2 linked regions of the Homo sapiens genome follow. The protein of the gene in region 1 purifies or fractionates together with the protein of each later gene. This does not show direct contact. Each region holds a gene or a part of one and is shown on either strand. Other genes may lie near its edges.

Region 1 (7,000 bases):
GTTCCCTGAGCACATATTTATACCAGGCTGACCAAGCCTTGAGTTCCTCTTCTCCCAAGGAGCTCAGCTAAGGGAACACAGCATGGCAAGTGCTATGAAGAGGGTAAGCACGGGACACTAAGGGAGCCCCAGGAGAAGCACTGCTTCCCCTTAGAGGCTCAGGACTAGAGGACCCATGGCAGTGCTCCAGGATGGAGAAGGCCAAAAGGCAATCCAGACCGAGGGAAAAGCCTATTCTGCACAAAGGCTCAGGACAAGAGAAGGGGTGCATGGAACCGTGGGCAGGAGCCTGCTCTGTCAAACAGGAGGGAGTGGAGACAAGGCTGGGGCTAGATCCTGAGGGCTTCACACGCCAGACCTAGCGACTGTTACTGTTGGCTCTGTGATGTGAGGGAAGCCTGAAGACAGCAACCTCATCCCTGCCCACCTCCCACGGTGGCTCAGACAATACCCAGGAGAGTGGAGAGAGCTAAGGAGCTATTAGGGTGCTGCTCTGGGTAAAGCAGGAACATGCACCTCTTGAACATTCCAGCCTCTTGCTCCATTCACACTGTCCAATCTTGGCCTGCAGCCAGAGGCCTGACACTATTCCTGTCCTTTCAAGGGCTTAGCACTGTGCTGGCCCAGGAGAATCACTAAGTTAATAATGAAACAAACTACACCACCACCCCCATCTTCTATCTAAAAAAAAAAAAAAAAAATCAGGATGACACAATGGCTCTGACCATTGTTTTTAATTTATGAAATCAAGTTTAACACACAAGAAGCCTATAAACACTGCAATACAGAAAAATTAAGCTGCTGCATTGAATTCTTACTCCAAAACAATGCAAATCTGCATGAGGTCTCTCCCGCTATGGGTGTGAGTGGAAGAGAGGGAGACTTTTTTACCTGGGGTTGGTGGTGGAGTGAAACACAAGGGTGGGAGAGGTTTTGCAAATAGCCAGAGAACAGAAACCAATGTGCAGTCACTGACACACTTGACCAGTTAATTTGCACTTGTACTTGGCTGTGGCTGTTCCGGCTGTGGCTCCTTCGGCTTCTTTGTCTTCTTCTTCTTCTGCTTGGAGAGACAGCTCAAAGCAGACTCGCTCTTACTTGGGGCAGACACAAGCAGGGGCGGCTTGCCAGACTGAGTGGGATACTTGGTTTTCTGGCTCTCCGTAAACAGTGGCTGGGACAGCAGGTGGCGCAGCTCCTTCTTCAGAACCTTCATCTGCTTTTGTCTCCGACGTTCTTCTTGCTGGTCAGCTTTTCCTCCTTGAAACACAATACAAAAACGATCCTATTTACTATGGTTTGTAGAAACATTTTGTTTCCCTTGATGGGTAACACAGTGAAAAATGTTTTAGAACTACTTTAGGGAGGCAGGGTTCAAAAGTTCTCTGAAGAAGCTAGTGGTGGCTTGGCAGGGGCTGTAAATGGATAACGTCTAACCATTTGCAGGGGATACACAGGACCGCTCTGTCCTTTTTTACTCCATAAAAATCCTCCAAGACTGGAATTATCTTTACAGATGAGGCAACTCAGGGTTAGAGAAGTCACCTGGCTCACATCACAGAGCCAGTCATCAGACAGAGCCCAGAACCCAAGTCTCCTGACTGAAGATCACTTTTCTTCCTATGACCCACCCACTTACTGCCCACCTGGGGTTTGGTGAGTTCACAATTACAACCCCCACCTCCCTGCCGCCCCAGGAGACACTGAATGCTTCTTTGTAGCCCAGCTCTCCTATGCCTTGCCACCAGTGCTGTGACTGCACATGGAGAAGCTGGCAGAGCCAAAAGGTTCCACCTCAGTCTGTCCTCAGGAAGGGAAGCCAGGGCCTCCACATCTTCGGCCCAAGCCCCAACCCTGAGCCACCAGAAATAGCTCACTGTCATCAAGCCCACTGGTTTGGCTCCTGGCTTCCATGCTGAGCAGACAGCAGTTAAGTCTGCCTCTGAATTTGCTGACTTGGGCACCGAGGTGTCAACATCTCTGCTGAGCTGCATACTTGGTGGTGTGGAAGGAGCATGGAGTTCTAGATTTGGTTCTACCACTTTTTAGACCAGGAGTTTTCTCAAGCAGGGACCGGGCAGATTCATCCCTGAAGCCTCAGCCTGTGGTCACATATAGAGTAGCAGCTCTGGAAATGCCTTGTGACAGAGCTGTTTCCCTGCACAAACTGCCTCTGCTGTGGTATCTAGTTTCCATATGTAAAAGAAGAGTACTTCCTGCTGTGTTCATGTCATGAAAGTGGAGAAGATCAAATGAGATAATGGCATGGAAGTGCTTTGTCAGCTTGGAAGGCAGGTGTAGTAGGAACCATAATGACAAATAACTTAAAATGTAATACTTTCTATTTGCCAGGCAATGCTATAAGCACTTAACATTTTTTAACTCAATCAGTCTTCACAACAATCCCATGAAGTAGGTAGTTGACTACTTCCATTTTATGGAGGAGAAAGCTGAGAACACAACAGAGGTTAAATAACTTGACTCAGTCACATAGTTAAGGCAATGAGCCGGCATTCTAACACAGGCAGCCTGGCCAGAGAGCCTGCTCCCTTCCTCACTGTACTCCACTGCCTGTCCATGTAAGAGGAGGCAGCTGAGGGCACAAGACAGAGACAGAGGAAACAAAGACTGACCGAGGGCAGTAGGCTCACCTGGGACCAGGGCCTGTTAGCAAAGAGGGGGAAGGACGCCTTGCTGATTTTGACAAGACCCACAGTAGTAGAGATGGTTCCAACAAAGCAAAAGTTAAAGAGAGATTTCAACTTCCTCAATTCCCATCCCGCCCAAGGGCTTACCCTTATACATGTCTTCTTCCAGCTCAATCTCCAGGGCAGCTGCTGCCTGCTCAATCCAAGAGTTGTGCAGGCAAGCCTGGAAGTTCCGATACTCAGATTTCTCAATCTGTCGAGCTAAACGGATTCGCTCCTGGGGGGAAGTAACAGAAAATATTCATCTGAAATAGAGTTCAGGCCTCTGGGAAGCAAAGTCTCACTTGAGTTGTGTTTGTGTGTTTAAGGCAGGTATCACTCTGCTGCCCAGGCTGGAGAGCAGTGGCATGATCATGGCTCACTGCAGCCTCAACCTCCTTGGATCAAGCAATCCTCCCACCTCAGCCTCCCAAGCAGCTGGGAGGCACCACCATGCCTAGGTAATTTCTTTTTTTTTTTTTTTTTTTTTTTTTTTTTCGTAAAGACAGGGTCTCAACTGTGTTGTCTAGGCTGGTCTTGAACTCCTGTGCTCAAGCAATCTTTCCACTTCAGCCTCCTAAAGTGTTGGGATTACAGGCGTGAGCCACCGTGCCCAGCAAGTAGTGTTTTTAAAAAGCTCTTGAGCCGGGCATGGTGGCTCACACCTGTAATCCTAGCACTCTGGGAGGCCAAGGCGGGCGGATCACCTGAGGTCAGGAGTTCAAGACCAGCCTGACCAACATGGAGAAACCCCGTCTCTACTAAAAATACAAAATTAGCTGGGCATGGTGGCGCATGCCTGTAATCCCAGCTACTTGGGAGGCTGAGGCAGGAGAATCACTTGAACCCGGGAGGCGAAGGTTGTGGTGAGCCAAGATTGTGCCACTGCACTCCAGTCTGGGCAACATGAGCAAAGCTCCGTCTCAAAAAAAAATTAAAAATTAAAAATTAAAAATAAATAAATAAAAAGCTCTTGAGATCAGTGGTGAGATGCAGTTCAGTTCCTGTTGAAATGCATTTATTGCTTCCTGATAAAAGTCCAGTGGGCAACCATTACCCGTCTGTGTGTACACATCTAAACACAACTGCCAGCTTTCCCAACAATCAACCTGAACAGCCACATCCTTTGAAAACCCTTACTGGTTTGACTGCCAACCTATAGGTAACCAAAGTGAAGTCTTTACGCAGATGCCACAGCTTGCTTCCACAGCTGAGCTAAGATAAAACATTTCAACTCTCCCTCTAGAGGGTTTTGGGGTTACAGTGCAGTGGCAAAATGAGAAGGATCTTGTGATGTGGGGAAAGAAACCAAGGGAAGCCTGGGTGGCTCCTAATCCTCCTTACTAATGGGAATTCTCTATGATTTCCACTTTTCCATCCTTATCTCCACCCTATTTCCCCACACAGCTAATATTCCTTTTGAGCCAGAGAAGCCAACATTCCTTGAACTGTGCCATGGTTTTGCTCCCTCAATTCCTGGAATTCCACCTCCTCTGTACCCTTCCACATCTTTGCCAGCAGGAAGCTGGGATAGAACCTCTTCTCCTCCCAATGTAACCATATGCCCAGTAATTCCATACTGCTCCACTGTACCTGAACTTTATTCACAGCTGGCAAACCTCTGGGAAGGAGAACCCACCCCACTTTGGTCACTAATACAGTGTCCCATGGTAAGCGGCACCTACCTGGGGAATGCCTGCTGAGTTAAAACCCAAAAGACAGAATTTACTGGCACCTGCTCCAGGGATGTGCCAAACCTGTAGCATCTGCCTCAGCAGGAAACACTAACCACACTGTCTACAACCCTCTGACAGGATATCCAGACAGCCATGACCACTGCACTGTCTGGTGAGGAGGGGGGACTTCAGGGCCAGAGAAGGAAGAAATGGTTCAGGGAGAAAATGCCTCCCACCTTCAGTCACTCCCCTTTTCTCCCTTTTCCCAGGTATGTTGCTCTCAATCCTTTCTACAAGTCTCCTTGTTCAGCTGTTGGCAGAACCATTCCTTAGTTTTCAAGGGTTATGCTGCCAGAGTCCCACAGCAAGGTGCTCTGCAAGGGAGCAGCACAATCCCTTCATTAGCACTGGGGTTTTAACTGCTTTCTACCTTGACCACATCCATGTATTTTGTCTGCACGGGGAACAGTGGGATATCCTCATCTTTCTTGAGCGTTTTGTAAATCTTCTTAAAGTTGATCACATCCTCAGGCCCAATGAGCATCAGACTGAGGCCTTCATTGGTAGCTCGAGCAGTTCGACCACTTCGGTGGACATAAATCTCCGAGGTACGTGGGACCTGCCACAGGAAGAACTGGGAGATCAATACATGGCCACTGCCAAACACTGGTCCTCTCCTCAGGGCCACATCCCCAAACCAGACCCTCCTACCTCCCAGCCAGGCAGGTAGAAACTTCTGCAGCATTGTAGAGCAATCTAGCCCTCCTCTCTTAGTCCCACATTCAAAATGTTCCCAGGTTTAGCCCATTCACTGTGTAGGCTCTTCCCTCCCATGCCCCTGACCCTGGTTCAGGTCCTCAGGACCATGCAGCCAGACCACAGCAGTCACTTCTTATCCAGGATTTAAGCAGCCCAGCTCCACAGACCATGTTAATCCCTGGGTTATACGGTCTCTACTCCTATATATATTTTATCCATAGATAATGTGGCATGGTTGCTAACACACCCACTGAGCCCCTGGCACACACCATTAATCAAGCACAACAGTCTTCTCCACTGGGCCCAGATAACATCTAGGTATCCTTTTCAATACAGTACTTTAAGTAGCCACTATGAACTGTTCATAAGAGTTCTAGAAATGAGATTTGCCTTTCTTTACTTACAGGATAAAGGCCCAACTCTTCAACCTGACACTCAGCGCCTTTAGTGACTTGCCCTCAACTTACCCCTCCAGCCTCAGCAACTATTCCTTTCCCAACACATACCCTCTTCTCACTGTGAGCCAAGTGCCCCTGAACACTGCCCATTTCTTTGCTCCTTCCTTTAATGCCTCTATATGTCCAAATCCTCTTCACCCTTAAATGCCAGGCATGTTTTTAGAAAGTACTTTCCAACCTCCCAAACTAGAAGTTACCTCTCTCTTCCATTGTATTTTGTAATTTTCTAATACCTTCTGCCTTAAATTATGGCTGTGGTCATCTCACCTCCTCTGCTGGATCCAATACTTCTTAGGGGCTGGGACTGTATTTGATTCATCTTGACTCCACAAAGGTTGACCCAGCTCCTTCCCCAAAAAAGGGAAGACTATAGAGATTTGCTAAACCAAAATTAGCACCTGTGATACAGTGAAATATGTATTTGCTCTTCATCCTGTTTCCTGGCAAAGGAATCTCAAAAGTAATGTCTTTTTGTATACTAATGACAAACTATTGACTGATGGCTGATAGCCCCCCAGGTAGTTTCAGGATGGGGGCTGGTCACCAGAAAGGCCAAGGCAGGATTAGAAGGTTGGGACTTGCAGCACTACTTCCTAAAGGCCAATGGCTTAATTAATCATCTTACCCAATGAAGTCTCCATAAATATTCCTAAAGGACAGAGTTTGGAGAACTTTTGAATAAGCTGAATATGTGGACATTCCTGGAGGGTGGTGTACCCAGGAGGGGCATGGCAACTCCATGCTCCTTCCCCTGTACCTCAGCCTATACATCTCCCCATCTATATTCTTTGTAATATCCTCTATAATAAACTGGTAAATGTGTTTCTTTTAGTTCTGAGAGCTGCTGTAGCAAATTAATTGAACCCAAAGCGGGGGGTCATGAGAACCCCAACTTGAAGCTGGTTGGTCAGAAGTTCCAGAGGCCCTGACTTATCGACTGGTTGCGGGGAGGAGGGACATCTTGTGGGATCTGAGGCTATCTCCAGGAAGACAGCATCAGAAAATGAAACTAAATTAGAGGACACCCAGCTGGTGGCTGCTGCTTGATATGTGGTGAAAAACGCCCACACATTTGGTTACAGAAGTCTTCTATGTTGATTGTTGTTGTGAAGTGAGAGAATGGGAAAAAGCACTGTGAGTTTGTTGTTTCTCTGAAACAGCAGCCTAAAAGATTTTTAAAAGCACAAAGAGGAATTAAAGAGGAAAAATGATAATGCCATACCAGCTACCATTTATTGAGTACTTACACTGTGCTACCGGCTTCATCAGCATCAGCTCAATTTAATTCTCAGGATAACCCTATGGGGTAGCTAGTTGTTACTTCCAGTTTACAAACAATGACACTGAAACCAGAGGTACTAAATAACTTGCCTAAAGCTAACCAACTATGAAGCAGCAGACTGGGGATTCAAAGCCTGGC
Region 2 (7,609 bases), on another chromosome or scaffold:
ATCCCAGCACTTGTGGGAGGCCGAGGCGGGCCTGACCTCAGGAGTTCAAGACCAGCCTGGCCAACATGGCGAAACCCGGTCTCTATTTAAAATACAGAAAATTAGCCGGGCGTGGTGGGGGGGGTGCCTGTAATCCCAACTACTTGGGAGAGGCAGAAGAATTGCTTGAACAAGGGAGGAGGAGGTTGCAGTGAGCCAAGATCACATCACTGCACTCAAGCCTGGGCAACAGAGACTTGTCAAAAAAAAAAAAAAAAGAATTCTTGCCAGGCACAGTGGCTCACAGCTGTAATCTCAGCAGTTTGGGAGGCAGAGGGAGGTGGATCACTGAAGACAGGAGTTTAAGAACAGCCTGGCCAACATGGCAAAACCCCTTCTCTACTAAAAATACAAAAATCATATCAAAAAGAAAAAAGAAAAAAGAATTCTTACAACTTAGTAAAGACAAAGAGAAGTAAATGGATTTAAGTGGGCAAAAACATTTCTCCAAAGATATATGGCCAATGAATACATGAAAAGATGCTCATTATTAGTCCACAGGGAGACGCAATCAAACCCACAATCAGCACTTCATACCACCAGGATTAGAGTCAGATAATGGCAAGTGAGGGTGTAGTGAAATCAGTAGGTTGGAGTGAAATCAGAAGCCCCATACACTGCTAGTGGGAATACAATGGGTGAGCCACTCTGCTTTAGGTGTACATCCAAGTAAAATGACATGTCTACAAGCGTTCATAGCAGTCAACAAGTAGAAGCAACTCAAATGCTCACCAACTGATGAATAACCAAACATACCCATACAATGTATTCAACCATATAAATAAATGGAGTACTGATAATGCTATAACATGGATGAAACTTGAAAACACTGTGCTAAGAAAACAGTCACAGAAGTCCATTCGTGCAAAATATGAGGGACAGGAAACCTATAGACAAAGTTCATTCGTGGTTGACTAGAGCTGAAGAGCATGAGGGGTAATACCTATAGAGTACGATTTCTCATTGAGGTGATGAAATGTTCTAAAATTGATTATGGTGATGGCTACACAACTATGCATACTAAAACCACTGAACTGCACACTATTTTTTTTTGAGTTTTACTCTTGTTGCCCAATCTGGAATGCAATGGTGCGATCTCGGCTCACTGCAACCTCCGCCTCCCGGGTTCAAGCAATTCTCCTGCCTCAGCCTCCCCAGCAGCTGGGATTGCAAGCGCCCACCATCACACCCAGCTGTATGTTAGCAGAGACGGGGTTTCACCATATTGGCCAGGCTGGTCTTCAACTCCTGACCTCAGGTGATCTGCCCGCATCGACCACCCAAAGTGCTGGGATTACAGGTGTGAACTGTTAATAGGTAAACAATGGAGGGGAGTAATCAAATCGAGTCACTGGAGGGCAAGTCAGGCAGAAGTCTCTATTAGCAAATACCAAGGGGTTCACGTTTAATTCAACAACTGAACGTACTGGTCTCTAAATCCCAATACAGCAACTTCATGTAAGAAACACCTATCTTTCCAATACCGAAGAAATATTTGCTGTATTTAGAAAAAGTATCATAACTTAAAAAGCTGTCACAAATAGCCCTTCAAGTGGCTTTTTAACAGTGATTTTGTCAGTACAAGTTTCTGGCATTAGAACCCAATCCCTGCAGGTGCCTCCCCTGTGCTAGAAACAAGATGAGAATGCTTTTTTTAAACATTTTTTCTTATTTGTTAAAACAAGTCTATTAAACTACTATCAAAATAGCTATCAAAACTACTATCAAAACAGCTTTACTGGCAGGGTGTGGTGGCTCACACCTGTAATCTCAGCACTCTGGGAGGCTGGGGTGGGCAGATCACCTGAGGTCAGGAGTTCAAGACTAGCCTGACCAACATGGCGAAACCCCATCTCTATTAAAAATACAAAAAATTAGCCTGGCATGCTGGCACATGCCTGTAATCCCAGCTACTTGGGAGGCTGAGGCAGGAGAATCACTTGAACCCGGGAGGCAGAAGTTACAGTGAGCCATGATTGCACCACTGCACTCCAGCCTAGCCAACAATGCACTTCAGCCGGGGCAACAGAGACTGTCTCCAAAAAAAAAAAAAAAAATTCAGCTTTACTTAAGAAATTCCCCAAAAATTAAAAAAGACATTTAAGGGCCACATACTATCAACGTATTACATACATCTATGTATAGTATACATCAGCACTATGCACATTACATAGCCTTTCTTGCTTAAATCAAGAGTCATCTGAGCCCACACCATATACCCATTCCATCCTCAAAAAGGAACCAAATTCCCCTTTGATCTGTGTTCAAAAGGTTAGATTTCTAAGTAACTATAACGAACCTTCATGCACCTCTTTGCATTTTCATTGCCATCTATCTATGCTGGGCCCTTGCCATCTCACCACTGAAGTTTCTATTAATATTTGTTTCCCTCAAGGCATCCTTTACTACTATGCAGACCTTAGTACACTTTCTTCAACTTATATGAAAACTTGCGGCGGTGCATGGTGGCTCACGCCTGTAATCCCAGCACTTTGGAGTTCGAGACCAGCTTGGCCAACATGGTGAAACCCCGTCTCTACTAAAAATACAAAACTTAGCCAGGCGTGGTGGCAAGTGCCTGTAATCCAAGCTACTCTGGAGGCCGAGGCAGGAGAATCACTTGAACCTGGAAGGCAGAGGTTGCAGCGAGCAGAGATCATACCATTGCACACCAGCCTGGGGCACAAGAGCGAGACTTGCCGAAAAAAAAAAAATCCCACAAAAAAAACCAGGTACTGATTTGGACCTTGATATCTACACTTTTCATTCCTATCAATGCCCAACTTAAAGACAAACAAAATTACATTGTGGTTACATCATGAATTTATACCCATTTTTCTGAGATGGGAGTCTCCCTCTGTTGCCCAGGATGGAACACGGTGGCGCATTCTTGGCTTGCTGCAACCTCCACCTCCCAGGTTCAAGCAATTCTCCTGACTCAACCTCCTAAGTAACTGGGACCAATAGGCAGGCACCACGATACCCAGCTAATTTTTGTATTTTTAGTAGATACCGGGTTTCACCATGTTGGCCAGGCTGGTCTTGAACTCCTGACCTCAAGTGATCCACCCACCTCAGCCTCCCAAAGTGCTGGGATTACAGGCGTGAGCCACCATGCCTGGCCTAATTATATCAATTTTTAAAAAAGGAAATCTTCCAAAGCCCCAACAGGGTCAATACTACAATCAGGTCCTACTCCAAAGCCTTTCTGGAAGGGATTGCTTGTCCCCGAGCCTCGGTGAATGCTATTAAACACTTATTTTATAAACTTGTACAAAGGTAACTCAAAATCAGACTAAACCAATCCGAACCATACCATCCCTATTTCTAATTTGTGTTTTTAGCCTGTTTCCCATTCTTCTCTTGGAATGTATTTCAATTCTTACTAACGAGAAATATTCTTAAAAGTGATAACCAAACAAGCTGGGCTTGGTTATGCTCCTGTAACCCCACCTGCTTCATAGTCTGAGAGGGGAGGATAGCTTGTGCCCAGAGATTCAAGTCCAGTCTGAGTAGCATGGTAAAACACCATCTCAAGAAAAAAAGTGGCCGGGCACGGTGGCTCATGCCTGTAATCCCAGCACTTTGGGAGGATGAGGTGACCAGATCGCCCGAGGTTAGGAGTTTGAGAATAGCCTAGCCAACGTGGTGAAACCCCATGTCTATTAAAAATACAAAAATTTGGCTGGGCGCAGTGGTTCACATCTGCAATCCCAGCACTTTGGGAGACCGAGGCAGGTAGATCACGAGGTTAGGAGTTCAAGACCAGCCGGACCAACATACTGAAACCCTGTCTCTACTAAATACAAAAATTAGCAGGGCATGGTGCCCCGAGCCTGCAGTCCCAGCTACCCGGGAGGCTGAGGCAGGACAATCGCTTGAACCCAGGAGGCAGAGGTTGTGGTGAGCCGAGATGGCGCCACCGCACTCCAGCCTGAGCAACTGGAGACTCCATCTCAAAAAAAAAAAAAAAAAAAAAGAAAACAAAAACAGCAACAGTCAAATACTACCTTTAAGTTTGCGTTCATTTATAAGTTTGACATGCAAGTACTTTGAATTTTTATTTTTCTTTTGAGATTGGGTCTTGCTATTTTGACCGGGCTGGCCTCAAGAGATCCTCTCATCTTGGCTGGGTGTTAGGATTACGGGTGTGAACCACTGCGCCTGGTCATACTTTGAATTTTTAAGCTTTCGGCTCTTTCGGCCTTTTTCCTGTTTTCTGCCTTCATCGTCATGCTCAAAGATTTTGAAGAACCACCAGCTTAAAACCTAAACTCCCAATTTGATCTTTCATGCAGGTTCTCTTTTAAAGTGCATGTTCTTATATTTGTTTTCAATAAATGCATATGGACCAACCTCAGAACTGAAGGACAAAGCTGAGAGCCAAATCAAAGTATTCAATGCATTACTGGTACTGGCACACATAAGACCAATTATAAACAGTACTTTATACCAGTGTGCGTATTAACTGTTTGTAACAATAGTTTGATCTAGTTTAATATAAAGTCATCAAATATTGTTTCCAACCATATTTTAAATCCCAAGAAAATCTTAATATCCCTTTTAGAATCTTATTTTTGTCAATAAATATCTACATAAAACCATAAGACAAAATCCTTTTAGGGAATAACAAACCTTGAGTAACAACTTGTAAAATGAATATAGAGCTATTTAATCATATTTTCTTTCAACCCAATCTCATTAACTGCTCACCATAAAACATACCAGGCTTGATGGGTATAACACATCCACTAAATCTTCAGAACAAAGGGACATAATCAAACTTCACAAACACTATAGTCTACCCTTCTGAAGAGTCACAAGTCACAGCATTGTAAAGGCTCACAGACCCAATATCCTTTCAACTCAGCTCATTTAACTTAAACTGACAACAGATGACCACCTGCCCTTTTATTATAAACTATTACATAGGATGGCTTTTTGTAAATGACTTTTATAAAACCCTCATGCATATAACTATGTCAAATTCCTTTTTTTGTCAAGATTCCGGAAGTATATCAAGTTTCTAAAATCATACTTACTCTTCATCATCATCCTCTTCATCATCATCGTCATCATCTTCATCAGCAGCAAGTTTTACTTTTTTCTTTTAAAAGAAAAGATACGTACTCATGAACAAGAGCTGTTCTATCACCAAACTAAAAGCTATAATACAAAACCTATAATAAAATTGCCATCTCTACCTGTGGAACCTTGCTACCACCTCCAGGGGCAGACCGCTTTCCAGATATACTTAAGAGTTTCACATCCTCCTCCTCTTCATCTTCTGACTCTGCATCTTCCTCCACAGCTAAAATACAATTTATTAGACATTATAAAACTCAAGCAGCAAGAAGTCAGAAAAAAAAAGAACACTGATAGTAAATACTCTAAAAACTGAGACTTCTATTCTATTTAAAAAAAAAAAAAAAAAGAGCACATGGGAAAAGGAACTTTTTAACAAAAGTATTTTGAGGCCTAATGTTCACTGCCAGGTTTTAAATGCAAGAAGCCTGGGGAGGGTGGCTCATGCCTGTAATCTCACTTTGGGGAGGCCAAGGCGGACCACTTGAGGCCAAGAGTCCAATCTGGGCAACATACTGAGACCCCATCTGCACATATACAAAAAAAATTAGCCAGGCGTGGAGTGTGCCTGTAGTTCTAGCTATTCCAGAGGCTGAGGTGAACCCAGTAGCAGTTCGAGGATATAGCAAGCTATGATCACATCACTGCACTCCAGCCGTTATAATGAGACTGTCTTTATTAAAAAATAATTTTTAGGCCAGGCACAGTGGCTGACACGTGTAATACTAGCACTTTGAGAGGCCAGGGCGTGCAGATCACGTTAAGGCCAGGAGTTCAAGATCGGCCTGGCCAACATCACGAAACCCCTTCTCTACTATAACTATGAAACGCAACTGGACTTGGTGGTGCACGTCTGTGGCCCCAGCTACTGGGGAGGCTGAGACAGGAGGATCGCTTGAATCCCGGAGAGGTTCCAGTGAGCCAAGATCGTGCCACTGTACTCTAGCCTGGGTGACAGCAAGATTTCCTCTCCCCCCCGCCCCAAAAATTTATTTGTCCTCTCCAATTTCTAGACTCACATTGGAACCTATTAAAAAGACAGTAGTACTATACCCATGCTTTAAGTCCAAACTGGGAACCAAGCAACTGCACTAAAGAGGACAAACTAAGTAGTATAATATATAAAAATAACATACCTACTAAGTGCTGTCCACTAATATGCACTGGCCCTGAACCACACTTCAACCTTAAGACCACTGGTGGTGTTATTTCAAAGCCCCCAAGGGAAACCTAGAAGGGAGAAATTTTTCATCACTAAACATGTGAAGAAAATGAACAATAAACATTACAGGCAAACACATAAGCCAAATCAACAAACCAGTGAACCTGTTTTTCCACCTCTGATAAAAGTAGCAGCAGAAGCCCCCATGTTCAAGAGTTGACCATCGAACTCCAGTGACAGAAGATAAAGAACCACTTTCTATCTCCTTGGCACAACTAAATGACACCAAACCTACCTTAAAACAGAATTAAACCTTGACACAACATCCAAAGTATGTAAGTGCCCTTACCGTTGGCTGTACAGACATTTTCAAAGTTGCCAGTGTTACTTTAATTGGACTGCCTTCGTAATTCATTGCCTCTGCTTCAACAATGTGCAACTCATCCTTTGCACCAGCCCCTAAACTGACCTGTGAACAAAAAAAAAATACTACTTCAACTTTTGAGTTCCACCTATTTTACACCCCCCCACTAAATGTTATATGCAGCCATGCGTCACTTAACCACAGGGCTAGGTTCTGAGAAATGTGTTGTTAGACAATTTCATCTTTGTACAATCATAAGAATGTGCTTATACAAACCTAGATGGTATAGCCTACTACACACACCTAGGCTACAAACCTGTACAGTGTTACTGTACTGAATACTGTAAGCAACCGAAACACAGTATTTGTGCATCTAAGCATAGGAAAGGGCCGGGCTTGGTGGCTCATGCCTGTAATCCCAACACTTAGGGAGGCTGAGGCGGGCAGATCATGAGGTCAGGAGTTTGAGACCAGCCTGGACAACATGGTAACAACCTCGTCTCTACTAAAAACACAAAAATTAGCCAGGTGTGGTGGCACATGCCTGTAATCCCAGCTACTCGGGAGGGTGAGGCAGGGAATTACTTGAACTCGGAAATCAGAGGTTGCAGTGAGCCGAGATTACACCACTGCACTCCAGCCTGGGTGACAGAGCGAGACTGCCTCCAAAGAAAAAAAAAAACAGGAAAGGTATATTAAAAATAAGGTATAATAATCTTATGGGACCACCATTGTATATGCGATCCATCTGTTGACCCAGCAGTTGCAATGAGGCACATGACTGTGATTTTTTTAAAAAACAAGTATAAACCTCTCACTATTACCCTGGAAAACAAATTTGTGCAATGTTGTCCTCAGGTTTTGTGATCTTGGCAAATCAGTTTCTCATATTCAGAAAATTTAAGAAATGCATAAATATGCATACACACAATATAGACCACCTAACATATTTATTGAGC

Evidence for each region.
Region 2: the proteins of DDX24 (region 1) and NPM1 purify together in Homo sapiens (affinity purification with mass spectrometry; 5 studies listed by BioGRID and IntAct, with this or other methods). This does not show direct contact.

Annotation. Positions count from the first base shown.
Region 1 is NC_000014.9:94,050,203-94,057,202, forward strand, and holds part of DDX24 (ATP-dependent RNA helicase DDX24), read right to left. Parts: intron 4,983-7,000; coding exon 4,794-4,982; intron 2,926-4,793; coding exon 2,796-2,925; intron 1,261-2,795; coding exon 989-1,260; 3' UTR 1-988. UniProt on the Homo sapiens protein: ATP-dependent RNA helicase that plays a role in various aspects of RNA metabolism including pre-mRNA splicing and is thereby involved in different biological processes such as cell cycle regulation or innate immunity.
Region 2 is NC_000005.10:171,390,451-171,398,059, reverse strand, and holds part of NPM1 (nucleophosmin), read right to left. Parts: intron 6,756-7,609; coding exon 6,636-6,755; intron 6,355-6,635; coding exon 6,261-6,354; intron 5,351-6,260; coding exon 5,244-5,350; intron 5,147-5,243; coding exon 5,082-5,146; intron 1-5,081. UniProt on the Homo sapiens protein: Involved in diverse cellular processes such as ribosome biogenesis, centrosome duplication, protein chaperoning, histone assembly, cell proliferation, and regulation of tumor suppressors p53/TP53 and ARF.